Linked DNA regions of Homo sapiens: regions 1 and 2 are each reported to be linked to region 3. Evidence: microRNA targets listed by miRTarBase, many of them from high-throughput screens and not tested one by one. Region 3 holds a microRNA gene; each other region holds the end of a gene's coding sequence.
What was found. Region 3 holds the annotated microRNA hsa-miR-3650 (AGGUGUGUCUGUAGAGUCC, at 838-856, opposite strand). A microRNA usually pairs through its seed, bases 2 to 8, with sites in the 3' UTR of a target mRNA and lowers its output. Matches are read on the target gene's strand: a 7mer-m8 pairs with bases 2 to 8, a 7mer-A1 pairs with bases 2 to 7 and ends in A, and an 8mer does both.

Region 1 (3,357 bases), not on the chromosome of region 3:
ACTCTTCACTTCAGAACGTATATATTTCTTCCTTCCAAATTAACCAGTATACATAAGGGCTAAAACTATGGATTTCAGAACCAGTATGCCAAGTTTTGGTGCAATTTCCAGTTTGACCACTGTGACTTTGGGCAAGTTTCTGCTTCTATTTTTTTCAACGAAACAACCCAGTGAAAAAAATGTTTCCCTTTAAAAATCTAGGCAATTAGTAACACTACCACCACCACAATGACAAAAATACTTCTGGTTTTAGCTTTTGATCTTTGGTGATCTAACTTGAGATGCTCTTTAATCTTGGGGAATAACATTTAGAAGATTAAAGCTGTAGTCCAATAATGAAAACCCTTGGACTCTTGAGAAAACACATGCTAACTTGTATTTATAAGATGTGAAACTCATTACCCATTTACTTCAGATAAGTGCTCAACATCTTACAGATTGATCTTGTCACTAATTTCCTATTCTCAGAGCTAGATTTATGTAATTTGTTTTCATGTAAGTTTAGGCTTACTTGAAAGTATTCTACTCTTCGCACTAATACTGAATAAGTAAGATTTGTGACTAAAAAACTTAAGAATCACCATTTGACCTTTTATAAGGTCTGATGAAGGTAAAGGTTAGAGGATAAAAGCTTTTATTTAACAGATTCCTTCTCAGACAAATTATGGCAAGCACTGGAGCATAAATTCCTTCGTGGTATTCCTTCGTGGTCTCCTAGATACTGCTGGTAGTTCAATAAATACCCTTGGAGGCCAAATCAGGACTGTTTTACAAAATGTGCTGGGCATATTAGTGGTACATAAGATGATTTTAGCTAGTTCACAGATGTACATTTGTTTCAATAGTTGAATATTGAACATTTAAAAATATATATAAAAAAAAATAACTAGAACATCACACTCTTGATTTCATCGACATAACTGCCAAGAAAAGTGAGGGTAGCATATTTACAGTAATTCACCACAAAGCCCACTCACAGGTATGAAGACCAGGGATGCTCACCAGTACCCAGAGGACCAGATGATTGATGGGTTCTACCACGAGCATCTAATAGCGACTGCTGCAGAACTGGTGTGGAAAAGGTTTCTATTTTATAAAAGAAAGTATCCAGAAGGCTAAAGGCAGTTGTGGAATTTATTTCTTCCCAGTGCTCTGATTGTCAAAATTTGAATAAAGCTCAGTGAAAGGAGGACAGTAATTAATGACTTGATAGCCAAACATCGTAATGATGATTTAGTGATATACTAGACTGGATGAAAGAGAGGTCACTGTCTTTTCACTATGGATTCATCATAAACAGTATCATTCTTCTCAGGAAGAAACTTATTTTTAGAACTATATTTTAATAAATTTCTCACATTCTAATATTTAATTTTTATTTTTTAAATTTTATTACCTGCTAGGTATGATGTGTAAAATGATTTTCCATTTATAGTAATGGTATAGTTTCCTTTTTATAAAAGGTTTATAAAGTTTATGTAAAAAGTCAACTTAAAAATACCAAGTTAATTCAGTCAGTTCAAAAAGTTTTGAATAATTAAACTTGGAAAGTCACTGCAATAAAGCCAAAGCAAGTTAATGGTCATAATTATAAGACTTAGCTTTTTAAAATAAAACTCTCAACTGTGTCTACCCTTTTAATTTTTTTTCTTTCTTCCCCCTAACTTTACAGTTAACCGACAGCGAGACCAAGTCAAACGTACGTACATCAATCTTAAATTGTTTCATTAAGAGCTATGTGAATTCTGTCAGTGCATTATGAGGAACAATGTCTAAGAGGATATTCTATGTTTGTTTCACAGGTTACTACTCTGTTGTATATCCAGGCTGGCCCATATATCCACGTAACAGATACACTTCTCTCTTTCTCATTGTTAATTCAGTAATTCTAATACTGTCTGTTATAATTACCATTTTGGTACAGCACAAGTACCCTAATTTAGTTCTTTTGGACTAATACAATTCAGGAAAGAAAAAACCCAAAAACCAACCTCATTCACATATGGCTTTTTTTTTAACCAATAACAATTAGGTGTACTTCTATTTTAAAACATTTCAGAAAAAAATATATGTTATAGCAATACTCTTACTCAAAAGAAGAAATTTCCTAACTCTATCAGATAAACTCATCTTTAGTATAAATAAGCATTATTTGCAGGTTGCCACAGGTGGACTTTTAGTAAGTAACCTAACCCATGTTTCAGCTTCTAAATCTGCAAAATGAGCAAGGTACAGTAGCACATTTTTAGGTGATTCTTAGTAACTCCAGTAGCCTTCATTAGTTAAAAACATTATTATTTTTTGCATGCTGCTTCGACTCTAAATATCTGGTTTTCCCTGTCTTTTTGGTTTACTACTTCCCCAGATTCAGAACAGAGGAGTAACTAGGGGATCTGATTTTAGAGGCCTTAATTTTCTGTTCATGGACTGTTAAAAGTAAAACCAAACTTTCAAAAGGGATAAACCTAAATATTTACTTGTTATCATTAGAGAGGGAACATCAAATGCTGGGACATCATTACTAACCAATAGCATCAGACACTGGATTTAATGGATAATCACAATGGTCGTAATGTATACAAAGACTTATATACCACTTTCTCGTATAAATTTTTCAAAAAATACAATAATAATATAATTTATAAAGAACACTCTTCTATGAACAACCACCACCACCAAAAAAAAAAAAAGCCCTCAGAAAATTTCTCACAAATAAGGCAACTAATGCCTGATATCTCAAAATCCTTTACAAAAGGAGATAGTTCTAGTCAAGGAGTTTTGGGTATGTTACTTTTTTTTCTTCTTTTTCTTTTCATCTGCCTCCATCTTAAGTGCAATTTCTTCAGCTGTAAGAGCTCCCAGTTTCTTATTCTTTGCTTTCTTAACCTTTTCCTTGATGCTGGCCACATCAATTTTAGTTTCAGTAGAAGCTAGACAAATTAAAAGCACAACACATGTAATACTTTAGATTTTACCAAGTAAAACAAAGAATATATGTTTAACAAAGAATATATGTTTAAGGCAGTTAACTTCAGAGTATTCTTATAATTGAATAATTGAAAGGTGATCACAGTATAAAATATAAAAACACTTGCCTAAAGCAGTTAGAAATTTCTTCAGATTAAGATAAAACAAATCATAAAATACTTTATATATTAGTACAAGTATACATAAAAATGGCATAAATGGCATAATTGAACCAATTACTGGATTCAACTATATTAAGACTATTTCCTTAAATCCTACTTCAGACTAAATTATTTTACCTACATTCTTTTCCATATTTTGGAACTTCTGAGTCATTATTTTCCATCTTGCACATTAAAATAATTTAAAATTACATGTATCCCTTCTCAA
Region 2 (3,357 bases), not on the chromosome of region 3:
TGCCTCACACAGATGTTGGCTTCTCCTCTCGGAGGCGTCTTTTGTTCATGGTGCTGAAGGGTTTAAGGGGCAGAAGTGAAGGCATGTTTCCAAATCGGATGGTCTCTGGAGTGTGCTCCCTGAAGGACGGGGGTGGGGGTGGGAGAGAAGCTGAAATCTGTTTCAGAACCAATCCTGGGCTTGGGAAGCTTTTAGGAGGATTTGCTGCCCTAAATTAACTGTCCACCCTTCTTTCCCTCAGGTCATCTGTGACAAAATATTTCGCCATTGGTTTTCCGCGCCTCTCAAGAGCTCTGCGGTCTCTTTCCAGCTTCAGCTGCAGTTACAGGAGGCGGTGCAGGAATGTGCAGACCCTGGGGTCCCCAGTGGGAACACCCGGAGAGCAGCCTCCAGCGTGTTCTGGAAGCTTCGCCAACTCCTCCAAGCCACACTGAGGGAGCTGCAGGAGGCAGAGAAGTAGCCACTCTCTGGCCTTAAACATGCTCACACAGGAAAAGTGACCTTGGCTGGATTTCTTCTGCCATTGTTTTAAAGATGAGCCATTTCCCCTGTGCTCTCTGGGGTGCCGTTCTGGTCTCCACATTGTGGAGTGGCAAGTGCTGCTGCCAGAGACAGTGCTCCCTCGCTCTCGTCCCACCCTGGCCTCTGACCTGTCGCCTTGTGTAAAATGAGATGAGGGAGGAGGTACAGACCTCCCTTCAGGAGGGCTCTCGGTCAGAAGACACCAACCTGTGTGCACTTATTCTCTGCAGAGAGCACTTGTACCTGGTTATCCCAGCACGAGTTCCAGCTGTTCTTTCCTGTAAATCGTTACCACGTTAAAAAGTGTGCGTGTGTGCATACAAATGATGTGTATGCCTGTGTCTGGGTGCAAATGAGCATGTGAGCATGTGTGAGTGTGCCCATGAGTGTCTGCATGTGTGTGAGTGTGCACAGGTGAGTGTGCACAGGTGAGTGTGGTGTGCTCATGAGGAGTATGAGTATGCCTGAGTGTGAATATGTATGAGTGTGAATGAGTGTGTGCACATGAGTGCACGGGTGTCAGCATGTGTATATAAGTGTGGGCATGTGTATGTGATTGTGTGAGTGTGGGCAGGTGAGTGTGTTGGGGATGTGGGTTAGGGTGGGGAGTGGTGCTTTCTCTAGTGTGTCCTCCGGAACATCTTGCCTACCTAGCAAAGAAGTGTGACCATTCTTTCGGAATTAAATACAATAAAAAGAAAATAAGCTGCATCTTTAGGGAAGGGAATTTGCATTGGAGAGCGTGTGTAACGGCAGCTTATAGTATTTTTCATTTTGTGGAATCCACCAAGGTTATGGATGGGTTTTAGGGCGCCTCGTATTGCAATACACCTTCCCCTGGGCAGGGACTTGTAGGTTGGCTTGATGCAGCATTGTCTTCACCTTCAGAGAAAATTTAAAGTAGAGCAAATGCTGAGGTCTGCATTGACTCCAGGCAGGACCAGAGACCAGCACCTTTCTTTTGATGGATTGAAGACCAAGTGATAGGCATCAAATCCTATGGTGGCATGATACGCTCATCAGTGGTGATCCCAAGGAGGCTTTTCCAGCAAAATACAGGCAGGGGGACAGGCCAGGTGAAGCCAGTGAGCTTTCACTTAAAGGGACCTGGTTTCTACCCATAACTGTGACCCACGAGTGCTCAACAAACCAACGGGTCACCCCTTTTCAGAAATCCCATGAAAAGGGAAATCGAGAAAGATGAGAGAATCAGGAAGTCATGTTGGCAGTTTACACATTAAAGAAGACAAATTAATCGGACGTTGTGAAAGTCACAAACTGACACATTCCAAATGGTCTCTTATCTTGGCCTGCAGCCCCTTTCTAAACCAGAGAAACGGGAATGCCTTCTTCCAGACTTTGGGGTCACATTTACTGACTCTGCCCTTCAGGGCACGCTGAGAAATGGTGTGTGAGGGACTAGCATGATCAGAGGCCCCCAGCTCTAAATTCTGCCTTCCCCAAAGACCTGTTGGAAGGCCCACTGCCAGCTGTTATTCTTACCCATCACCACTGGGGATCTTCCAAATGACACAGAGTTCCATAGAGGGCCTCCTCATCATGGACATGAAGACTCGCTTTGCAATTGTATTCTAGCAAGAAGGAAAAAACCCATGTCAGTCACCCTGTGGCACGAGCAAATTAAAACCAAAGTTCAACGGCCAGGCCTAGGACTAGTGGATTCCAAAGGAAAGGGCGGGCTTCGGGCTATTGGGTGGAGGCTCCGATTTTCCCCAGAGCTGCGCTGGGTGCAATGCCTTTCTGTGGTGGTCGGGGCATACTTTGGGCCATGCTCACCTTCTAGGCAGGTTCTCTACAAGCAAAAAGGTTTACAGGAAGACGGGTGTGAGATGGAGGGGGGGAAGGAGGGAAGCCACCAGGGCTTTGCCCTCTGTGCCCTTTAAACAGTGGGGTTTCGCTCTGGGAGGTCAGAGTGGGTCTTTTGTGGGTAGACGCTGGGATGCCAGCCATTCATTAGTGGCCTGAGCTCACTGACCAGGCAGCAAAGCCAGCCTGGAAAAGAGAAATAGTTAGTTTTCATTTCAACCAAAATGGAAACAAATTGTTTTTGTTTACGATGGAGACTGTGCAATATATAATTATCCAACACAATTGTGGTTTTATTGCTGAAAGGGAGCTGTTTTATCTCTTCCCTTTATGTTTGGCTACACAGTTACACACACACACACACACACACACACCCTTTTCCATCCCTGCCTGGGAATTCCCATTAGAGCAGTGGCTCTCAAATTGTGGTGAAGCTCAGTTTTGTTTTTAATTTTGAAACCTTGCAAATCAATGCTTTTATATAACATAATAAATTAACACTGTGTATATCAATATTTAGTATTTTGAATATGACAAATCGGTTTTTTTCTGGCTGATCTAATTGAGCAACAACCGCACTCGTAGAGGAAAATGTCTCCCTAAATGATTTCTATGTTTTGTTGTAATAACACATAGTAGACAGAACACTCTCAGAGACATGTTGATGGGATCTGAAAAAGATTATAAAGTAAACTCATCAAGCTCAGGCTATTCCTCTTTAAGTTGTATCCAAATTAAAGCAAATGGTGCTTTATTCATGTCCAGTCCTTCATCAGGATTCCATTGCCACAGTTTACCTTGACAAATTGTAGTTAAAACTTCATTTGATGAAAAGAAAGAATTCCATAATTGTATACTCCATTGGCTTACAGCTGACAAACCTTAATACACGTGGGTTGTATAGAAATCGTAGGTGGCTCAGGAGACAAGTTCGTGGATACCTAGACTGGTCAATGAGTCAGTTGGCCAATGTCAACTGGCAATGTCACATAACATCACAAACGTTTA
Region 3 (3,000 bases):
CCCCGCCCCTGACCCGCCCCTGCCCCCGGCCCCGGCCCCGCCCCAACCCGCGCGCCCCCGCCGATCCCCGGCCGCGCGCCCGCGCGCGCGGGTGCTCCAAGGAGTCGGAGGAACGCGGCCGCGCGACGGGCCCCGGACGCCGAGGGTGGTGCTTCCTCCGAGCCTCCGGTGGTGAGGCCGCTCTCAGAAGGTCATGGAAGCGCAGGGGAGAGCGAGGCGGCCGAGCCCAGGCAAATCCTCGAGAAAGGCCGAGTGCGCGACGGCTCTGCGGGGAGGACCGCGCCTCCCCGAATGCGGCCGCTGCTGCCGCTGCAAACAGTGCCTTGAGGAGAGGAAAGCGGGGAACCGTGTTTTCGCCGCCTCTGTAACCACTGCACACAAGAAAACCAGCTTCTGGGAGAGGGGGATGATTGTTGGGACTTTGCGAATTACCTAAACAGCCCAGGGCCGAGGCGCCGCCGCTCGCGTCCTGGTCCTCCTGCCGGGTGTGGGGCTCCCCTGCCCGAGATGGCCAGCGGGCGCGCCGAGAGTATCCTGGAGCCATCTAGTCTTGCCTCGGAGGCGGGGTGGGCTTATTTGTGCGGAGAAGAAACGGATCTCTTAATGGGGTGAGATTTTTCCTCCGTACATTGTTCCCATTTCCGCAGTTTCACTTGGCCTCGGTTTTCTAGCAGAGTAATCACCAAATGAAATTAGCTGGAGAGCGTTTGATGGCGCAGAATCACGGTCTGAAGATGTTTACGCTGTATGCCGGACGCGTTTGATGGTGTTCTCTTCGGCACAATTAATTTTGCAAAGTTCAGAAATGTGCCAGACAGAGCCCCTGGCACGCAGTCAGGACTCTACAGACACACCTTGAGTAGGAAACAGGCTTGTTTGTTTCATCTGTGATTTATGTGATGCACCAGCACCAAGGCCAACGTGTTTTTTAAAGACCTTTCGATGAAACTCCAAAGCAATTTATAAATTGGCAAAATGAAGCTTGTTTTGTAAAATAACTCTTCCTTGTTGATCATGTAATTAAATGGGCAACAAAACACCTGAAAGGACATTTACTGAAAAGTAGACTCCCAAAACAAAAATATGTATTTCACAGCTAGATACGGTCGCTATTAGCGTCCTAATGGCCAACTCCATCCATGTGCGTATTTTGAACACTAAAAACGCCTCCTGTTACCCCTAAGACCTTGTTTGGATAACATTTTTCTATTATAAGTACTCGAAACCAACCCCATTTAAGATGTTTACCCTTATTCTTGAGTCCTTGATGGTTTGGGAAATTTATCATTATTCATATTGCACAATCCTGTCACTGTCTTTTCCATTAGGCACAGTGCCTAAGGTCCACAATATTTTTAGAGGCCCACAAAAAATATTTTAATTTCTTTTCAAATCAGAAGGAAAAAAAATTTAGGTTTAAGAAAGTATTTTAATATATATTAATATATTTGTTTTTGTGCTAATACAATCTTAAAATGTATGTATATATGTGTGTGTGTATATGTATATATATTTTAATGGAGTAAGGGGCTCAACGAAGGCAAAAAGGCCTAGAGCCCAAGAAAAACATGATGTGGCCCTGTTGCCTGGGGTTGAAAAATCCCATTCCATGAGAAGAATTTAGTTTTAAGAATATTACATAAAATGCTCATTTCTGTGGCCTTGCTATAATAGAAAGATGGAGATTCAGAGTAGTGATAATGGCTAACATCCACCTGATACACACCATGTGTCCATTACCTCTTAATCCTCACAGCACACCTGTGAAATAGGTACTATTCTCACACTTAGGGGGTAATGCAGGTTTTGTGGGGCCTGCAATTTATGCAATTTGGGTGGTCCTCTTAAAGAAAAAGCAAATACTGTGTATTAGTCCGTTCTCACACTGCTATAAAGAACTGCGCGAGACTGGGTAATTTATAAAGGAAAGAGGTTTAATTGACTCACAGTTCCACATGGCTGGGGAGACCTCAGGAAACTTAACAATCGTGGTGGAAGGAGAAGCAAGTACCTTCTTCACAAGGAAGCGGAAAGAATTGTGAGCGGAGGAACTTGCCAAACACAAAACCGTCAGATCGCGTGAGAATTCAGTTACTATCACGAGAACAACACGGGAAAACTGTCCCCATAATCAAGTCATTTCTCTCCCTAACAAGTGAGGATTACAATTCAAGATGAGGTTTGGGTAGGAACACAAAGCCTGACCCTATCCCACAGCATGTCCAGGCTGCCCTAGCACCACCCAATAGAAGGGAAAATGGCAGAGGGAAAGTCCTAGTGGAAAGAGACCTCAGTCTCAGCTAATTGTGGTGACAATATATTGCTTTTGCAAATTGTACATAAACATATGACCAGGTGAATGTATCGCCAAGGCTCCTGCCAAGGCCTGGGATGGAGGCCTAGAGAAGATGCCCGAAAGTTTATGCTGTGTGAGCTTCACAGAAGACCTGCCTTCCATGTATACCCATTTTACAGGTAAGAAATTTAGGGATTTGCCACAGCTTCTAAGGAACACCACATTCCTTACACCATACTGAGGTACAATTTGAAGAGTTGCGGTATACGCACTGTTTCGTGAGGAAAAACGGAGTTTCTGTAACAAAGCAAGAGCTTTAAAAATATGTTAGCAATATTTGACCAGGCCATAACCCAGCTTGGGGCACCTGACTGCTGTCTGTGCTGTCAAGAATAAATTTTTCTTATCTGTTGTATAAAAATCTGAATTAATCCATATGGACTCCTGAAGGAATTTCAGCTCAATTTCAAGTCTCATGGATTGAGACTATTTTTACTTACTTTGTCATAGACCAGTCTGTGTTGTAAATTCTAATTTATATAATATTTACTTTTTGCAATTTCATGAAGTGTTGCAAAATAAGTATCAGAACAAGAACGTACTTTGTTTGATGCTTATATTGCATAATACAACGAGCCTTATCTCCATAAGTGTTTGTTGAATAAATAAAATAATGAAACAGAGTAAGTCACAAAACTGAAGTA

Region 1: the mRNA of KRR1 is a reported target of hsa-miR-3650. Seed matches in the 3' UTR shown: 7mer-A1 at 1,070-1,076.
Region 2: miRTarBase lists DIPK1C as a target of hsa-miR-3650. The part of its 3' UTR that is shown has no 7-base or 8-base seed match.

What each region holds. Positions count from the first base shown.
Region 1 is chr12:75,497,022-75,500,378 of GRCh38, forward strand. It overlaps KRR1 (KRR1 small subunit processome component), which reads right to left. Exons shown (of 10, transcript NM_007043.7): 10 at 1-2,930. The coding sequence ends at 2,788. GLIPR1 (GLI pathogenesis related 1) reads left to right here. Exons shown (of 6, transcript NM_006851.3): 5 at 1,673-1,699; 6 at 1,803-3,357. The coding sequence ends at 1,957. Among named protein-coding and RNA genes, the nearest start is that of GLIPR1-AS1, 8.9 kb to the left of the region's middle.
Region 2 is chr18:74,433,604-74,436,960 of GRCh38, reverse strand. DIPK1C (divergent protein kinase domain 1C) reads left to right here. Exons shown (of 4, transcript NM_001044369.3): 4 at 242-2,186. The coding sequence ends at 460. Among named protein-coding and RNA genes, the nearest start is that of DIPK1C, 22 kb to the left of the region's middle.
Region 3 is chr5:38,556,703-38,559,702 of GRCh38, forward strand. It overlaps MIR3650 (microRNA 3650), which reads right to left and starts at 859; the gene lies at 800-859. LIFR-AS1 (LIFR antisense RNA 1) reads left to right here and starts at 84. Exons shown (of 9, transcript NR_103554.1): 1 at 84-2,475. It also overlaps a transcript of LIFR not described here. RefSeq lists enhancers at 85-868, 221-330.